3 linked regions of the Homo sapiens genome follow. The protein of the gene in region 3 interacts with the protein of the main gene of each other region in a biochemical or structural test. Each region holds a gene or a part of one and is shown on either strand. Other genes may lie near its edges.

Region 1 (3,644 bases), on a different chromosome or scaffold from region 3:
CTTTTCTTCTGAGACAGGGTCTTGCTCTGTCACACAGGTTGGAGTGCAGTGGCAAGATCATGGCTCACTGCAGCCTCCACCTCCTAGGCTCAAGCAACCCTCCCACCTCAACCTCCAAAGCAGCTGAGACTACAGGCACACGCCATCACATCCACCTAATTTTTAAATTTCTTGGAGACAAGGTCTTGCCAGGGTGCCCAGGCTGGTCTCGAACTCCTGGGCTCATGTGATCTGCCTGCCTTGGCATCCCAAAGTGCTGGGATTACAGGCATAAGCCACCCCGTGCAGCCTCCGCTTTTTAAATTTTTTTGAAACAGGGTCTCACTGTGTTGCCCAGGCTGGAGTGCAGTGGCATGATCGCGACTCCTGCAGCCTCAATCTCCCTCCCAGGATGAAGTGATCCTCCTGCCTCTAGGACCACAGGCAAGTGCCACCATGCTTGCTAAGGGGCCCCATTTTGAAGATGAGGAAGTTGAGAGTTACAGAGATAGGGGATCCGGCACAAACGCACAGCTCCTCCATGCTAGGCAGCCTGTCCCACGTCCCAGAGCGGGGCCCACCTGCCTCACAAGGTCCTGGACGCGGCGCAGCTGGCCCTCGATGCAGGCTCGGTGCAGCAGGGTCTCCCCCATGTCGTTTCGCCGGTTCCACTGTGGGCACAGCCAACCCAGCACAGGGCAGGGGCGTGAGGAGCTGGCAGGGCTGCTGAGCGGGGTGGGTGGGGGCAGGGCACTGTCCTCACCTTGCTCCCCTTCCGCCGGCCCAGGTGGCCCTGAAGCTCCTCGTCCTCCTCCAGCTGCGGGGTCAGGCCATCGGTGTCGTCCTCTGGAACAGAGCCAAGCCCACCCCAGGGGAGTCCGTGGGAGGTGAAGGTTAGCAGCCCCCACCCTGCTGCAAGCTCCCCAAACTCCCAGGTACAAAGGAGCCAGAGACGGGAGGGCTGAGCTCTGAGGCTGCTGGGCTCTGGGGGCTCCTCAGCAATGGTCCCAGCGCTGCCTCCATGTCTCCCTGACCCTGCTGGGACCCTGCTCCTGCCCACCATCCCTCTGCCCACTTGAGACACACCCCTGAGCTTTCTGCCCTAACCCACGCCTGGCCCTCCCACAGAAGGCCTGCCCGAGGCCCCCTCTGTCCATGCGCCAGCCACTCATCCCCACGCCCAGACCGGCTCGTGGGCCAGTCTTCCTCCACCCCACGCCTTATCCACCCCCATCTCCTGAGCTGTGTCGTCAGGCCAGGTCAGCCCTGGAGCCTGGGTATCCTGCACCTTGCAGCCTCCACCCTGCCTAGGCAGCAGACACACCCGCCTCCGTCCCTGCTTCGGGTGACCCCTCATCACCACGCCCTTCACACCCTGCCAGCTGCCTCTGGGTCTTTCCGCAGCTCCTCACTGTGCCCACCAGCTGAGCAGCATTCCCCAAAATTCTAGATCCTGATCCACCTCCCCCCAGCAACCAACCTGGCAAGGCCCCAACTTCCCACAGCTGCCTGGCCACTCAGGGTTCTAACGACGCCCTCGAGTTCAGAGCTGAAGTCACAGCCTTCCCTGGAACACCCCCCAACAGGCCTCATGGACAGGCTCCTGCCACCCACCACTCAGTCAGAAACCAGCCTCCCAGCTACCCGCTAACCCCGCTCTCAGCCCTCTCTCCCTGCACCACGGCCAAGATGGCTTCAGTCCAAGCCCCGCTCCAGCCAGTCCCTCATGCCTGCCCTCCGTGCAGCTGATGTCGCCAGCCTCTGGAGGAAACCCAAGCCTGCTCTGAAGGGTTTCAGGAAGGTGCTCAGCTCTTGCAGAGGCAGCCGGGGCTCTTCAAAGTGCACCGTCTCACCCCTGGCCCCAGATGGCACGTGCCTCTCTAACGGGACCATGCCCCAGCTGACACTCACTCGACTCCCAACCACTGTCTCCTCCAGGAGGCCAAGGCCGCCCCAGGCTCCCTGCGGGTCACCACCTTCTCTGTCCAGTTCCGGGAAAGCACTGGCCGTCCTGCCTGCCTGTGGCTGTTCCTGCTACAGCCCTAAGCAGGCTCCACAGCAGCACAGCACACCCCTCTCCAGCCCGGCCCAGAGCAGGCCCAGGGAAATGCAAGGTGCCGCTGGCCCTCACCGCCCTCTGAGAGCTCCACCTCGCCGGCCTCCAGGGCTTCGCTCTCCGCTGTGGCTGCCGCCTCCTCCGCCTCCTCCTCCTCATCTTCATCTTCAGCTACACTGAGCTCCCGTAGTCTGGTTTCGGTCTCAGGGGCCTCCTGGGGCTGCAGCCTCAGCTGCACGGTATGGAGATGCTGCAAGACCTGCCTCTGAGGAGCAGAGGGATGCTCAGCTCAGGACTGGGGGCTGTGGACGCAGAGAAAGATGGGGATGGGGCACAAGGGGCAGGCAGGCTGCAACGAAGCTGGGCTCACCGGGGAGCCAGTATGGGTGGGATGGGCTCTCGCACCTGCAGCTGGGGACGCTGGGCCTGCTGGGCACAGCTGAGCGCTTTCTGGAAGCACGGGGCCAGCAGCTCGTAGGCATCGCCGGCCTCCTCGCGGGACAGTGCAATGTTCAGCCAGGTCTTGGCCTCCTGGAGCAGGAGGAAGGACAGGGTCGGGGGCTGCCGCTGTCTGCGTCCAACGGGCCCCAGTCAAGCTTCCCCGGCTGCCCAGACGAAATGGGAGCCCGGCCTCCCAGCTGCCGAGGGTGGATGGTCCTAGGAAGGAGCTGCCCGTCCAGTAAGGACACCTGTCCATGGCCACCCTGAGAACGGCAGTCCTGAGGCAGAGACATGGGTGAACCTGCATTCGGGCGGGGAGCAAGGGTTTCACCTCCAGCACGTTGCCGCTGCGCAGCCTCAGTTCCTCCTCATAGTGGCGCACGGCCCCATGGTGGTCCTTCATGTCTCCCAGTGTGGTGGCCAGGGACACGTGGATGATGGCCCGCTCAGCACCCGGTCTGTCCAGCAGCTCAGCAAAACGCAGCTGGGGGCAGTGCCAGTGAGGCCAGGGGCTGCCACCCTGGCCAGGCCTCGTCAACCTCACTGGCCCTTCCCTCCCACCCAGCCGGGGCCACACACCTGCTTCTGGTAAGCCTCAGCTGCCCTGGGAAAGTCTCCTGCCTTGGAGAAGAGGTCCCCTAGCTGCTCACAGATGACCATGGCACCCTGAGGGTCTCTGCCCTCAGCCTCTTCCAGCTGTTGCTGCAGCCGGACCACTGCCAGCACTGCCGGGAAGAGGTTCATGCAGGGGGGCAGCACAGGGGGCCCTGACCCCAGCTCTACCACCTGCAAGCTGTGAGCCCTGTGGTGGCCCCCCCACTCTCTCCACACCTCTGCCTGCCTGTTGGTGTGGGGGTTAATAGCAGGGTCTATCTTGGGGACTGGTCTCAAGGGTCACAAGAACTAACACACTTAAAAACTCGGGGCCAGGTACAGTGGCTCACGCCTGTAATCCTAGGACTTTGGGAGGCCGAGGCGGGCAGATCATGAGGTCAGGAGATCGAGACCATCCTGGCTAACATGGTGAAACCTCGTCTCTACTAAAAATACAAAAAATCAGCCGGGTGTGGTGGCGGGCACCTGTAGTCCCAGCTACTCGGGAGGCTGAGGCAGGAGAATGGCATGAACCCGGGAAGCGAAGCTTGCAGTGAGCCGAGATCATGCCACT
Region 2 (3,644 bases), on a different chromosome or scaffold from region 3:
GCTACTCAGGAGGCTGAGGCAGGAGGATCACTTGAGCCCAGGAGGTCAAGTCTACAGTCAGCCGTGATTGCACCACTCCATTCCAGCTTGGGCGACAGAGCAAGACCGTCTCAAAAAAACAAAAACGAAAGAAATGAGAGTGAGGTGGGGCTAAGCACTGCCTAGAGTCTGGGATCCGGTTCATTGGGAGAAACCCTGGGTAGTGAAAGTGTGGAGTGCTGTATTCCTCTGTTCTCCCCTAAGACTGGACCCAAAGATAGTGGTCAGTGGGAGGGGGTGGCCAGCCTCTTTGAGCCATTTCTTCTTCAGGCCCAGACGAGAGTGAAACTGAACTACTTGGACCAGATTGCCAAATTCTGGGAAATCCAGGGCTCCTCCTTAAAGATTCCCAATGTAGAACGGCGGATCTTGGACCTCTACAGTCTCAGCAAAGTAAGAACAGGTTTTTGTCAAGCACCCCTCCCACCAAACCCCAATATCCTTGATACTCTGGGGGCCCCCTTAGTTTGGATATTAGATCTTTAGGCTGCAATGGAAGGGGCACAGCTTGGTAGCACACAAGCTGTCATCAGAACATCTTGGAATCTTTTGCTGCAATTTGAGGTTGGGATAAGGGGATAGCCCCCAGTGAAGTGAGGGACTAGAGTTGCCCTCATTGCCCTTTTGCCCTTTCTACAGGCCTACTCCCTCACATATAAATACACGTGGCACATCCATGTCTTTTCCTACTTGTTTTTTCAGATTGTGGTGGAGGAAGGTGGTTATGAAGCTATCTGCAAGGACCGTCGGTGGGCTCGGGTAGCCCAGCGCCTCAACTATCCACCAGGCAAAAATATTGGCTCCTTGCTACGCTCCCACTACGAACGCATTGTTTATCCCTATGAAATGTACCAGTCTGGAGCCAACCTTGTGGTAAGGATGTCACAGTGGGGCAGGGTGCGGCTTTACCCTTCAGCACAGATTTCCACACTTGCTCTTAATGAAACTGGTTTAGTGGACTGGAGACCTGGGAGTTGGACTCTGCTCTTTCCTAGTGATGCTTATTCTCTTTCTACACTGCTCAGGGTCAGAGGTCCTGGAGTTATCTGTACGGCTAGCTTATTTGTTATGTGACAAAGTTTTAACTGATAGAGAAATCAGAGAAGGGAGAGCTTGGGCTAGAAGGTGTGGGAAGAGATGGCGTCTGATTTAGTTGGGGAGATGGTTGGTGGAGGAAGTGACTGGAAGGGAGGAGTGATACAAGCAAAGGTACTGAGAATTCCCAAAATGTGTGCTGGTGTCAGTGCTAAAGACCAGTGGAACAGGGGCTGTTGGTGTGGGTCAGGTGAGTGGACCACAGCTTTGGATGCCATTGGGTGAGGGTAGAGGGAAGTTATTGCTTTTGCGGGCTGGAGTCCATGTCCTGACCCTTACCCCTTACCTGTCCCCAGCAGTGTAACACACGTCCATTTGATAATGAGGAGAAGGACAAGGAATACAAACCCCACAGCATCCCCCTACGACAGTCTGTGCAGCCTTCCAAGTTCAACAGCTATGGCCGGCGGGCCAAGAGACTGCAGCCTGATGTGAGTACTCCCCTTCTTCGAACTTAGAGCTTTGAGGTGGAGGGAGTCCTCTCCTTCCTTCTGGCTAAGGCTGTGTTCCCTGTTCCATTATCCCTTCTTTTGTTCTCTGAGTTCTTCTGAGCATTAGTGTGCCTCTCTCTGGCTTCACTCTTGCTTTTTTCTCCCCTCTCAGCTGAGCTGCTGAGCTGGGTCTTGATCTGTTTGTGCAACCTCTTTTGTATGTCTGCTCTTCTTGCCTGTTTTGTTCCTTTCCGGACTTACTCTGCTCATAGAAGTAGAACTCTTCTTTCTCTTTATACCTGTATCTTTTGTTTTGTTTTGTTTTGAGGCATAGGGTCTTGCTATGTCGCCCAGACTGGAGTACAGTGGCTATTCACAGGCTTGATCATAATGCACTATAATCTTGAACTCCTAGGCTTGAGTGATCCTCTCACCTCAGCCTCTGGAGTAGCTAGGACTACAGGTGTGTACCACTGTTCCCAGCTCCTTGTAGCTATGTCTTCAGGCAGAAGCTTATGTGCCAGGCATTCTTGGCACTGGGAATACAATAGAGAACAAGATGGACACTGTCCCTGGGCTCATCGAAGCATGTAATTTAGCAGATCCTATTAGACTGCCATTTGTTGGTAATGCCAAACACTGTTAGCTTTTTCATATGTATTGTCCCTAACCCCCCTCATAACTATAAGGGAGGAGGTAATATTCTCATTTTACAGTTGGGAAAACTGAGATATCCTGTCTTTTATTCCTTTCTGAGAGAGGGCCGAGGGGGCAGCTCACCTACCCTCAGTCTCCAAAAAGCAACTCTGAGTTCTTGGCTTAGCCCATCTGTGCCTCAGCCCTCAGCATGAGATCAGGTGATATGTAGTCCGAGTTACTGTTCTTTTAGGATGGGACAGTCTGCCCCAGATAGCAGTCTTGATTCATTTCCTTCTTTCCTTCCAGCCGGAACCCACAGAGGAAGACATTGAGAAGAATCCAGAGCTGAAAAAGCTACAGATCTATGGGGCAGGCCCCAAGATGATGGGCCTGGGCCTCATGGCCAAAGACAAGACTCTGCGGAAGAAAGGTAAGGCCTAACAGGCTGGGGTGGCCTCACCTGGGGAGAAAAGTCAGGGCCCTAAGTGTCCTAGACCTGTGTTTACAGCCATTTTTCTCTCTCCCAGATAAGGAGGGGCCTGAGTGTCCCCCCACAGTAGTGGTGAAGGAGGAGTTAGGTGGGGATGTGAAGGTGGAGTCAACATCGCCTAAGACCTTCCTGGAGAGCAAGGAGGAGCTGAGTCACAGCCCAGAACCCTGCACCAAGATGACCATGAGGCTACGGAGGAACCACAGCAATGCCCAGTTTGTAAGGACCCAGCCCTGACTTCTTAATGCTCTGCTTCTTGTCCCTTCAATAAGCATTCCCCTGCATGGCACTGGACCAGTTCGCATTAACCACAAAAGCGGGCCTCCATGGGCCCTGCCCTCAGGTAGCTCACTTAATTGGGGAAACAAAGCCAACTCATATGGAACAAAGAGCAAGAAAGGGTGATCAAGTGCTGTCAACATGAAGTGCTGGAAGGGTCCAGAGAAGGAGTCTCACTCTCCATTGCTTCAGGATAAAGGCTAAGCTCCTCATTACCATGCATGATCCAGTCCCTGCTGACCTCTAGCCTCATCCCCCAGCACTGCCCACCTCACTCCTCTGCTATAGCCACACTGAACTCCTTGTAGGTATGTTCATTTTTCCCCGTAAGATGCAGTATGCTCTTTCATCCCTATCCTTTGCACATGTTGTTTCTTCAGCCTGGAAGAGATTCCCCCTGTGCTCTGCCCTGTTGCCATGTTTTGTTTTGCCTTCAGGTTTCAGCCAGTTTCAGGTGTTACCTTTTCAATGAAGTCCTTTCTCAAGGCCATCCCTCCTTATCTCCAGCTGCTTTGAGTGCTTCCTTCTCTAGGCTCCCACAGTGCCCTTTATGGACCGCTATTGGCAATTTTTAATTTTTATGAACACATGTCTCTAGAGTACTGTATATACTTGGAAGGATACCATGTCTTGTCTTTGTGCTAGAGTCCAGCGTAGTTCTGAATACGGGT
Region 3 (3,644 bases):
TTCAGCCTGATCCTGGAAGCTGCCACGCCAAGATTTCTTCACATTTGGGCAGTGAGGCAAGGACACTGCCTTGGGAGTTGGTTCTGGCTCCCTAGGATTGCCAGAACCCATGGAACCTGAGTCTAGAGAACCTGCCCGCTGCACTGCGGTGTGGATGGGGCTGGTGCTGGTGAACTGACTGCGACTCGCTTCTCCCCTGTCTGTTCCAGAACCCCTCCTGGCCATGCTGTGACCTGCAACCTAACTTATAGGTAGAGACCGTCCCATGTCTACACAGAAAGCCTCCAGAGCTGCGGGGATGTGGCTGCCATGAGATCTCCACAGGCAGAGGGTAGCTTTTCCTTCCTCCTGTTGGGAGGTGACATAGAGAGAGAAAGGATGGCCTCGACAGTTAAACGTCACACTGACTGCCCAGCAACAGCCTCCTGTCTCTACAAGGAGAGAAAGGGCAGCATCGGCCACGGCTGTGTAACCACTGTGAGACTGGGGCAAAGTCCAGCTCCCGAAGGTGGCAAGCCCGGCCCAAGGGACAAGAGTGAAGGGCACATGGGACAGACCTGGGCCTGGAGGGCCCTGTGCAGCAGAGACAGGTACCTTGGCAGCGGCCAGCTCGTGGGCAAGCTCCTGGATCTTCTGCTGCTGCTGAATCAGCAGCTCCTGGACGGAGGCGAGGGTCGTCTGTAACTGAGTCACTGCGAGGAGAAAGCAGTCACGGCGCTGGCAAATTCACAGGCACAGACGTTCCCCTCGCTCGGTCCGCACACCTCGGAGCTGCCCGTGTTCCCGCTCCATCTAATTTATCTGCAGACACCCCCAGCCCCCGCAATCCATCTAATTTATCTGCACTCTGGGTGATCTGCCTGCACTGTATCTAACCTCTAGTATTTCTACTTTATCTTTCCATTGTGTAGTTGTCCATGGTCAACAGTATATCCGTCCAGAACCTCTCCCCTCTAATTAGAGCTGGCTATGATTTGCTGAGCTCTCCCGGCTTCTCTGGCGCCTGCGTCCTTCATCTCCTGGGCCTCAGTGTCCTTGTGAAACTCCTGGGGTCTCCAATGCTGGGAGAGATGCATCTCAGGTCCCCGCCACATTCACATCCAGGAGTGGCTCAAGCCGCACGTCCTGTTTCCCACTGCTCCTTCCCACCCTCCCCACCTGACCCAAGCTGCCTGCTCAACTCCCTGGTGTCCCGTGACCCCTCAGGACCTTGTTGCCACCAATGTCAGCCTCGCAGGAGCAAACGGCAGCAGGATGGACGTGTCAGAGGGTTTCTGTGAGCTTCACAAACGTGCTCCAGAGGGACACAGACTCCTGCCTGGGACAGGTGGCTCTCTCATTGGCCTTGCTCTGGTTTTTAGATTCAGAGCTGCCGTCTAGTAAACAAGTTTATAAAGAAGAGAAGCCACCTCTGGCGCGACAGGTCCCAGCTAATCTGGGCCATCGCTGGGGCACTGGGTAATGAACGCGAGCCCTGTTGAGTCGATAACAGGGGAGGTGGCTGGGGTCCCGGGAGCCACAGTAATTACAGACTCTCTTGACCCCACAGTCGAGTCTTAGAGGGAAGGGGGAAAATCACTGAAAACCCCCCTGAAAACCTCATAGAAGCAGAAATTAAAAATGAACTTTACAGCCCTTAGAAAGGCTGTCATTTTATTCCCCTTATTAATATTCTGAGGTTGGGAGCCTTTCCGTAAAAACATAATTAATTGAGGCCGCGCCGACAGTAAACAAGCAATTTCAAATTAAACCGAAATGACGGCGGCTTCATTTGCAAATGTGAACAGATTCTCAGAGCAGATAAATGAAGTCACCACATAGAGTGGAGACAGAGGGAGAGGGGAGGGGCAGAGAAGGGGCTGCTTGGAGAAGGCTGTGAGGGGTGACTTGATGGAGTCATTAATCTTTACCTGTCTGGGCCACGCTGCCACTCAGCTCAGAGAGACCGGCCTCCATCCTCTCCAGCTGCTTTCTGTCCTCTCGGCCGCCCAGGATGAGGGGGAGCAGGTATTTCTGCAAGAAGCGGGACAGGGTGAGGAATGCATACGGACCCGGGGTTATCCTCCAACAATCTCTCAAATTCTGCCGCCCAACTTTCTCCCTGTCATCCCTGGGTTTTGGAAACCCTAAGCAAACACCATAAATGAACAAGATATTTGAAAAAGTTATGAGACTGCGATTACAACCACGTAAAAATTCTGCCTGAATAAGGACAAGGACCAGGAGGGAACGTGGACAGGGAGAGTCAGCTGGATCTGCTGTGATGGGAACTTTTTGGTTCCTTTATTTACTTTTCTTAGTGATGCTACACTATTTCTGTAACACAAAGTTATAAACTCTACTGTCAAAGTTGTAAGATATAAATGTGGATGGACACACAAGCAACAGATAATGCTGGAGCCTCCAGGAGGCGAGGGAGGCGGGGCAGCTCTTCCCGGCATGTTCTCCTGAATTGTGAACATTTTGAACCTGTGAGTGAATCACCTATTCAGAAACAAACGAGTAAATTAATAAACAAAACATCGCTGGAGAAACTAAAGGAAAATCAACAACACATTTCTGGGACCCTTGGTTCTCTCGCCAGGGGATAACATGTGCGCTCTGAGGCTGCTGGAAGAGGTCACCTCAGTCTTTTTCTAAATGAAGCCTGAATCCTCAGAACAAACTTCCTTCACGTAAGAGTCAAAAGAAGTCGAGTTCCCCAGAAGGAAACACAAGGCAGAAGGGAGAGGAAGGCGCAGGACCAGAAGAAACTGGCTCTGGGGAAAAAGAAAGTGAATGCGGCAGGGCCACCCCTCACAGGGGCCTAGAACCAGGGATGCCCGAAGGAGCCGTTCAGGAAGGGGGCAGGCAGGGCAGGGCTGGCAACTGGTGCTCTTGGTTGCCTTGGAGGTGAGGGTGTGGAGGGGTGGAGGTGGGTGGTGGGGCCTGCAGGGACAGCTGCGTGTAGGAACATGTGCACTGACGTCCAGCCACTCGGGACATGGAGACAAAGCCCCCCAGGTGAGGAGTGAGACCCGCTGCCCCCTTCAGTGGGCACTGCCAGAGGCAGTGCAGTGCAAGCCTGGCAGGAGCTGCCCGGGGATAACTTTGGTTCTTAATCTATCTGGGCCCAGATAGGAAAGAGGACGGAAACTTCTCCATTACGGTTTCTGTACCAGGGAAGGAAAAGAAGCTCTCTCACAAGGGGTTTGTGGGAACTCATTTCCAGAGTGACTCCTAAGTGAAGATCATTCTTCAGCAGCACATGTATAGACGCATTTTCTATTTTGCAAAGTGCTTTTCAACCACAGTGTGAGCTATTACCCACAACTGAGCCAAAACTCATCAAAGGTAGCCTTACACTTCAGGATGAAATGTCCTCAGCAAGAAAGGTAAAGAATTCTTGGCCGGGCGCGGTGGCTCACGCTTGTAATCCCAGCACTTTGGGAGGCTGAGGTGGGCAGATCATGAGGTCAGGCGTTCGAGACCAGCCTGGCCAACACAGTGAAACTCCGTCTCTACTAAAAATATAAAGATTAGCTGAGTGTGGTGGCGCATGCCTGTAATCCCAGCTCCTCGGGAGGCTGTGGCTGGAGAATCGCTTGAACCCGGGAGGCAGAGGCTGCAGTGAGCAGAGATCATGCCACTGCACTCCAGCCCGG

What was found.
Region 1: the proteins of PEX14 (region 3) and TONSL interact in a test that uses a peptide from one of them, tested with the Homo sapiens proteins (one large-scale study listed by BioGRID and IntAct).
Region 2: the proteins of PEX14 (region 3) and KDM5C interact in a surface display test, tested with the Homo sapiens proteins (one large-scale study listed by IntAct).

What each region holds. Positions count from the first base shown.
Region 1 is NC_000008.11:144,437,911-144,441,554, forward strand, and holds part of TONSL (tonsoku-like protein), read right to left. Parts: intron 3,202-3,644; coding exon 3,056-3,201; intron 2,997-3,055; coding exon of another isoform or gene 2,961-2,996; coding exon 2,808-2,960; intron 2,567-2,807; coding exon 2,441-2,566; intron 2,301-2,440; coding exon 2,111-2,300; intron 1,984-2,110; exon of another isoform or gene 1,566-1,983; intron 873-1,565; exon of another isoform or gene 826-872; coding exon 743-825; intron 651-742; coding exon 561-650; intron 424-560; exon of another isoform or gene 318-423; intron 1-317. UniProt on the Homo sapiens protein: Component of the MMS22L-TONSL complex, a complex that promotes homologous recombination-mediated repair of double-strand breaks (DSBs) at stalled or collapsed replication forks.
Region 2 is NC_000023.11:53,215,064-53,218,707, reverse strand, and holds part of KDM5C (lysine-specific demethylase 5C), read left to right. Parts: intron 1-309; coding exon 310-432; intron 433-741; coding exon 742-912; intron 913-1,430; coding exon 1,431-1,565; intron 1,566-2,510; coding exon 2,511-2,634; intron 2,635-2,731; coding exon 2,732-2,913; intron 2,914-3,644. UniProt on the Homo sapiens protein: Histone demethylase that specifically demethylates 'Lys-4' of histone H3, thereby playing a central role in histone code. Does not demethylate histone H3 'Lys-9', H3 'Lys-27', H3 'Lys-36', H3 'Lys-79' or H4 'Lys-20'.
Region 3 is NC_000001.11:10,621,388-10,625,031, reverse strand, and holds part of PEX14 (peroxisomal membrane protein PEX14), read right to left. Parts: intron 2,014-3,644; coding exon 1,911-2,013; intron 693-1,910; coding exon 595-692; intron 1-594. UniProt on the Homo sapiens protein: Component of the PEX13-PEX14 docking complex, a translocon channel that specifically mediates the import of peroxisomal cargo proteins bound to PEX5 receptor.